Homo sapiens: one gene and its partner. The protein of the gene in region 2 interacts with the protein of the main gene of each other region in a biochemical or structural test. Each region holds a gene or a part of one and is shown on either strand. Other genes may lie near its edges. The genes, in order: CYLD and RBM25.

Region 1 (3,826 bases), on a different chromosome or scaffold from region 2:
CCTACTTCATTGGAAAGATTATTATTCTTGTAAAAATTTTAAATGAGGACCAGGTGCAGTTGCTCATGCCTGTAATCCTAGAACCTTGGAAGGCCAAGGTGGGAGGATCATTTGAGTCCAGGAGTTTGAAACTGCAGTGAGCTATGATCGCACCAATGTACCCAAGCCTGGGTGACAGAGCGAGACCCTGTCTTAAAAATAAATAAATAAAATAAAAATAAATGAAAATTTGAAAAAGAAATAATAGAAAGAAATTATAATGCAGTTATATCATGATATTCCCTTGCTATGTAGTACAAGTTTTGATGCTACAAAATTGATTTTTAAAATATTTTTAATATAGTCATATTATAATATCTGATATTTGCGATTTGAGAAATCAGATAACTATGATTAATGTGATGAACATTGCCCATCTTCAGAAAAAATATATGAAATGAAGTTGAGTCAGAGGTAAAATGTTCCATTATCACAATATGGCCATATCATAGCTATCATTTATAGGCATGAGCCACACAGCTCAGCCCGAAACGCTACTTTTAAAAGTTTATTAGTGTCAGAATATGGGACAGGCCTGGTGGCTTACGACTGTAATCCCAGTGCGTTGGGAGGCCAAGACAGGAGGATTGTTTGAGCCCAGGAGTTCAAGACCAGCTTAGGCAACATAGTGAGACCCTGTCTCTACAAAAAATAGAAAGCTTAGCTGTGTGTGGTGATATGCGTCTATAATACCAGTTACTCGGGAGGCTGAGGTAGGAGGATCACTTGAGCCTGGAAGGTCTTGGCCACAGTGAACTGTGATTGTGCCACTGCAGTCCAGCATGGGCAACAAGAGTGAGACCCTGTCTCAAAACAAATAAATAAAAATAAATTAAAAAAAGTTAGAATATGTATATAAGGGTAATCTTTAAAAGTTTTTACTAGAATCTGATTTTATAAATTTCAGTGTCTTGGAAGCAAACATTGTGTTGTCTTTGAAAGTACTTTACAATTGGATTTCATTAATTAAATATGCACAGTTACAGTAGATAAAAGTAATACAGTATGTATGTCTTTTAGCCCTTTTAGATATTTTTTGAAAATATTTCATTTGTGTGTATGTGTTTACTGGTCAAATGAAAATTTTAAAAGTCTTCAGTCTTAATTTTCAGTCATGTAGAATGAAGTCTAAAGTTTATTTTTGCTTTTTCACTAGGCATTTTGATTTCCTTTCTTTTTACAGCATGGACACCACGTTGCTGAAAACATGCTTTGGGACTGCCACTGAATTTATCTTTTGCGGTTTTATGACAAAGTTATTAGTAGTTTCCCTTTTTTGAATTAGTATTTTGAAGTTAATATCACAATGAGTTCAGGCTTATGGAGCCAAGAAAAAGTCACTTCACCCTACTGGGAAGAGCGGATTTTTTACTTGCTTCTTCAAGAATGCAGCGTTACAGACAAACAAACACAAAAGCTCCTTAAAGTACCGAAGGGAAGTATAGGACAGTATATTCAAGATCGTTCTGTGGGGCATTCAAGGATTCCTTCTGCAAAAGGCAAGAAAAATCAGATTGGATTAAAAATTCTAGAGCAACCTCATGCAGTTCTCTTTGTTGATGAAAAGGATGTTGTAGAGATAAATGAAAAGTTCACAGAGTTACTTTTGGCAATTACCAATTGTGAGGAGAGGTTCAGCCTGTTTAAAAACAGAAACAGACTAAGTAAAGGCCTCCAAATAGACGTGGGCTGTCCTGTGAAAGTACAGCTGAGATCTGGGGAAGAAAAATTTCCTGGAGTTGTACGCTTCAGAGGACCCCTGTTAGCAGAGAGGACAGTCTCCGGAATATTCTTTGGAGTTGAATTGCTGGTAAGTTTGATAAACCATTTTAGTAGTGTGTTTGTTTGTGTTCATGTGTGTCTGTGTATTTGTATGCACATACATATTTTTCTCCTTAAATACGAAATAAATTTTCCCAAGAGTCTTCTGTAATTTTTAATATTCATCATCCTTGCTGATGAATCCATGTTGTGGTTGAATCCATAATCCAAAACTTGCTTATAGTTGTCACTGATAATATGTGTGAAAATCACCTTGGCGTTTATTTCTGTTGGAAAGAGACCCAAGAACTCTGTGATATGTTTCCAAGCTTAATATTCATTCTTGAGAACTTAAATGTCAATTATATTTTGACATTCTTGCAAATAGAATTGTATGCCTTCTTTGCTTCTTGATTTAATTTCTTTTGTTTACTTTTTAATGATGAATTGCGAAGATGTAAAGATGATGTCGAAACTTAAAAAACTATGTACTATGGTAGGAACATACAAAGAGATTCACCTGGCTATTGCAGACATATATATTTTAGAAATTTTAACATTGCCTGTATTAAACATGAACGCTACCAGTTGTAAATAGTTACATAAAAAATTGTTAATTACCTTGCGTTATCATCTATAGGTTTCTTAGTTCTTCTTAATGTATGTTATTAAATAACAATTTAGATATAAGATTTTTGAAAAAAAAGTTGCAGAAATTTAAACTTGCTTATAATTGTCCCCGATAATATATGTGAAAATCCTTAGAATTTATTTCTACCGGAAGGAGACCCAAGAATGCTGTGATATGTTTCCAAACTTAATATTCATTCACAAGAACTGAAATGCCAATTACATTTTGACACTCTTGCCAATAGAATTGCATGTCTTCTTTGCTTCTTGATTTAATTTTTTTTAAAAGCAGTGATTGTAAACAATTAGGAATTTGAATCCCAGTTAAGCCATTTACTAGCTGGGTTGCCAGGTTACTTAACAAAGCTACTTAACTTCTCTCATTCTGCATCCTTACCTGTACAATGGTGTTAATAGTACATGACTTGTAGTGTTTTTGTGGTACATTGATGCAGGATTTAAGCACAGTGACTGACAATAAGTGCTTAATGAATGGAGCTAACATTACTGCTATTTTAAAGTAACATTTTCTTTTTATAACCAAATTAATGTTAGAATCACAACGTGGAATTCAGCCTAGCTTTCTCATGATAGAGTTATGAATTGAAATTATCAGATAATATTATTTCAGCATCAGATACAACTTCTTATTTTTTAAAACACTCTAAATCCAACAGAAACTGCTAATAATTGTATTTCTTATTATATGTATCATTTAGAAATTTTCCAGAGTGATTTTCCTGAAATCCCTAGAGTGAACCCCTTTTCCTATGGATCGTCTTTCTATATCTATTTCTTTCCCTTCTCTCTTAAAAACTAGGAAGAAGGTCGTGGTCAAGGTTTCACTGACGGGGTGTACCAAGGGAAACAGCTTTTTCAGTGTGATGAAGATTGTGGCGTGTTTGTTGCATTGGACAAGCTAGAACTCATAGAAGATGATGACACTGCATTGGAAAGTGATTACGCAGGTCCTGGGGACACAATGCAGGTCGAACTTCCTCCTTTGGAAATAAACTCCAGAGTTTCTTTGAAGGTTGGAGAAACAATAGAATCTGGAACAGTTATATTCTGTGATGTTTTGCCAGGAAAAGAAAGCTTAGGATATTTTGTTGGTGTGGACATGGTAAGAAAATTTTGGATTAAATATCTTTGTGATATATATATTAGTTTATATATATATGTATATATATATATAAACATATATATACACACATATATATACACACATATATATGTATAGTTTATATATATATGTATTAGTTTTAGGACCAATTTACTTGCAAATTGAACACTTTGAATATTTAACATGATCTAATTTGGAGTACTTTAAAGAACATGTTCTAATTTATCTTTGGTAAAGGAGCATTGAAATAGAACAGGGGTCTAGATACAGATT
Region 2 (3,826 bases):
GAGAATTGCTTGAACCTGGGAGGCAGATGTTGCAGTGAGCCGAGGTCGCGCCACTGCACTCCAACCTGAACGACAGAGTAAGACTCCGTCTAAAAAAAAAAAAAAAGTAAAACTCTATATTCTTGGTATTTAAGTTATATTTTATGGTTTTTAAATGTGTAATTCATTCTGCAGAGTTAACCAGATATATTTAATTTTCGTTTATGCCAATATACCCATTCCATTCACTTCAAATTTTTCCATAACATATTCCCCTTTATTTGGAGCTGCCAAAACTTGCTTGTTGATAGGCTGGACTTCAAAGGTGAAGGCAAAAATACCAGTTAACAGCTAATTTTTATGGATATTCCTTTAAGATAACTGGCCTCTCCTGGGCGCGGTGGCTCACATCTGTAATCCCAGCACTTTGGGAGGCTGAGGCGGGCGGATCACAAGGTCAGGAGTTCGAGGCCAGACTGGCCAACATGGTGAAAGCCCGTCTCTATTAAAAATACAAAAATTAGCCAGGAATGGTGGTAGGCGCCCGTAGTCCCAGCTACTCGGGAGACTGAGGCAGGAGAATTGCTTAAACCTGGGAGGCAGAGGTTGCAGTGAGCTGGGACCGCGCCACTGCACTCCAACCTGGGTGACAGAGCGAGACTCCATTTCAAAACAAAAATAAAAAAGATTGGTCTCTCATGGAAAATCAGAAAACATTTCTCATCTTTGATAAATACTAATGTCCACTTTAAGCAGCCTAAAAGATTACCAACTACTTATTTCAACACAGGTTTATGTGTTTTGCCATGTGAAACTGATTGAGAATTAACTTTCATAATCATAAGCAAAGCTTATCTGTTACCTATAGATGATAAACAAAATAAATTATAATACATTGAAAGATGGTATGTACTTTGTAGAAAAATAAATTAGGGAAGAGAGCTATGGAGTAGTTTATTTTAAATACAGCGATTAGGCCTCACCAAGAAGGTGAAGATTAGAACAAAGATTTAAAAGAGGCAGAGGCAGGAAGCCCTATTCATATCTGGGGGAAAGAGACTTCCAAGCAAAGGAAAAGACAAATACAAAGAGGCTGAAGCAGGAATGGTGTATTTGAGGGAGGAATAGCAAGGCCAACAGTATGACTGGAGCAGAATAAATGAAGAAAATCAGAAATAAATACTGAGTATTATGAGTAGAGTGTAGGGCTATGTAACACAATGTAAATAAACATTTTAGTTTTAACTCTGAATGAGGTGAAAATCATTTGAAGAGTTTCTGACTTGTCACATTTTAACAGTATCACTGGCCACTGTGTTAAGCCTGGAAGGGAACAGGATACAAGCAAGAGACTGGTACAATAATCCATATAAGAGATGGTAGCCTGGAGAGATGGTGGCCTGGAACAGGTGGTAGTGGTGAAAGTGCTATCAAGTTGTTGGATCCTGGATATATTTTGAAGGCAGCCAATAGGATTTGCTGAGGGATTGTATAATATGTGGGATTTAAAAGAGAGAAATGCAGAGTTATCTTATGGCACTGAAATCATTTCCATAGCATTTTTTAAAATATTGAAAGTACCTCACATTTTAGAAGGTTCAAAGCACCTTTTCCTGCTAAGTATGAAACTCCGGGCCGGGCGCGGTGGCTCAAGCCTGTAATCCCAGCACTTTGGGAGGCCGAGGTGGGTGGATCACGAAGTCAGGAGATCGAGACCATCCTGGCTAACACAGTGAAATCTCGTCTCTACTAAAAATACAAAAATTTAGCCGGGCATAGTGGCAGGCGCCTGTAGTCCCAGCTACTCGGGAGGCTGAGGCAGGAGAATGGCGTGAACCCGGGAGGCGGAGCTTGCAGTGAGCAGAGATTGTGCCACTGCACTCCAGCCTGGGCGACAGAGCCAGACTCCATCTCAAAAAAAAGAAACTCTATAGCCCACGATAATAAAAACAGGAACCTGGGCCAGGTGCAGTGGCTCATACCTGTAATCCCGGCGTTTTGGGAGGCCAAGGCATGCAGATCACTTGAGCTCAGGAGTTCAAGACCAGCCTGGGCGACATGGTGAAACCCCATCTCTACCAAAAATACAAAAAATTAGCCAGGTGTGGTAGCATGCACCTGTGGTCCCAGATACTCAGGAGGCTGAGATGGGAGAATCGCTTGAGCCCGGGAGGTGGAGGTTGCAATGAGCCGAGCTCACACCACTGCACTCAAGCCTGGGCGACAGAGTGAGGCCCCCCAAAAATTAAATAAAATAACAGAAACCTATGATAGAAGGGTTCCCTACCTCTAGTGTAGCGGTGGTCACACAAGTATATGCATTTGTCTAAACTCATTGAAATTAAAACAGATGCATTTTATTGTATGCAAATTTTATCTCAAGAAATCTGGTCCAAAAAGAAACCCTGAAGACATATCTCTAGTACTCAACATATGCATGCACTCAGCTTTTCTTTTTTCACTTTTTTCTCTTTGAATCTTTCAAACTATTTTTTTCTGCACTCTTAAGAATACTGCAAGTATGCAAAATACAGCAAAACACTGCTAATAAGCATTCCTCTATTGTAGACTTATCCAGATAGAAACAAAATTATTTCTCCCAGGATAGATTATTTTAGACTAGCTCCATCAGTACACTACGTGCCAAATTTCTGAAATGATAATGAACTGAGATTCCTCTGAGCAAATATTCACATACAACTCACTCATTCATTCAATATCTACTTCCAATTATGTGTCAGGTCTGCAGGAATTATTCCTAGAAAAAAAAAAGTGTTTTATGCCCAAAGAAGAATGGGAAATGCTTAACAGAAAAACTACTTTTACAGCAAAGCTTTTCAGAAGTATGAAAATACTCAATTGTTTGGAAATCTCCAAAAAAGAGTTGATCTTTTTCTGACATTGCCACTTTTGTTGTTTTACCATTTTCAATGATTAAAGAGCAACACTCCTGTGCCTGCCTATAGTCACAGCTACGCAGGAGGATCACTTGAGCCCTGGAGTTCTGGGCTGCAGCACGCTACTGATCAGGTGTTCATGCTAAGTCCATTCAGCATTAATATGGTGACCTCCTGGGATGAGAGAGAACCACCAGGTTGCCAACAGAGAAGGGCAAAACTCCCAAACTGATCAATAGTGGGATTACGCCTGTGAATAGCCACTGCACTCCAGCCTGAGCAACACAGGAAGAATTCATCTTTTTAAAAACAAAAACAAGGCTGGGCACAGTGGCTCATACCTGTAATCCCAGCACTTTGGGAGGACGAGGCAGGTGGATCCTTTGAGCCTGAGTTCCAGACCCGCCTGGGCAACATGGTGAAACCCCATCTCTACCAAAAATACAAAAAAATAGCCAGGCATGGTGGCGTGCACCTGTGGTCCCAGCTACTTGGGAGGCTGGGGTGGGAGGATTGCTTAAGCCTGAAATGCGGAAGTTGCAGTGAGCCAAGATCGCAGCACTGCCCTCCACCTGGGTGAAAGAGACCCCATCTCAAAAACCAAATAAAACAAAAAAGCAGCGCTATCTACTACTATCTATACAGAAAAATGAGGGCTTGCCTGAAACTGGGGTGGAACAGGGTGACTTGCAAACAGACAGAAGGAATCCTTTTGGGGTAATGGATGCATAACTTTGTATATTTACCAAAAATCATTGAATTGTGCACTTACAGGTGAATTTTCTATGTCAATATAGTTCATATAGCTGCCATTTTAAAAAAGGCATATTGGCCAAGTGCGGTGGCTCACGCAATCCCAACACTTTGGGAGGCCAAGGCGGGTGGATCACCTGAGGTCAGAAGTTCCAAGACCAGCCTGGACAACATGGTCAAACCCCGTCTCTACTAAA

What was found.
Region 1: the proteins of RBM25 (region 2) and CYLD interact in a test that uses a peptide from one of them, tested with the Homo sapiens proteins (one large-scale study listed by IntAct).

Annotation. Positions count from the first base shown.
Region 1 is NC_000016.10:50,748,354-50,752,179, forward strand, and holds part of CYLD (ubiquitin carboxyl-terminal hydrolase CYLD), read left to right. Parts: intron 1-1,195; exon of another isoform or gene 1,196-1,222; 5' UTR 1,223-1,345; coding exon 1,346-1,849; intron 1,850-3,250; coding exon 3,251-3,553; intron 3,554-3,826. UniProt on the Homo sapiens protein: Deubiquitinase that specifically cleaves 'Lys-63'- and linear 'Met-1'-linked polyubiquitin chains and is involved in NF-kappa-B activation and TNF-alpha-induced necroptosis.
Region 2 is NC_000014.9:73,061,235-73,065,060, reverse strand, and holds part of RBM25 (RNA-binding protein 25), read right to left. Parts: intron 90-3,826; exon of another isoform or gene 1-89. UniProt on the Homo sapiens protein: RNA-binding protein that acts as a regulator of alternative pre-mRNA splicing. Involved in apoptotic cell death through the regulation of the apoptotic factor BCL2L1 isoform expression.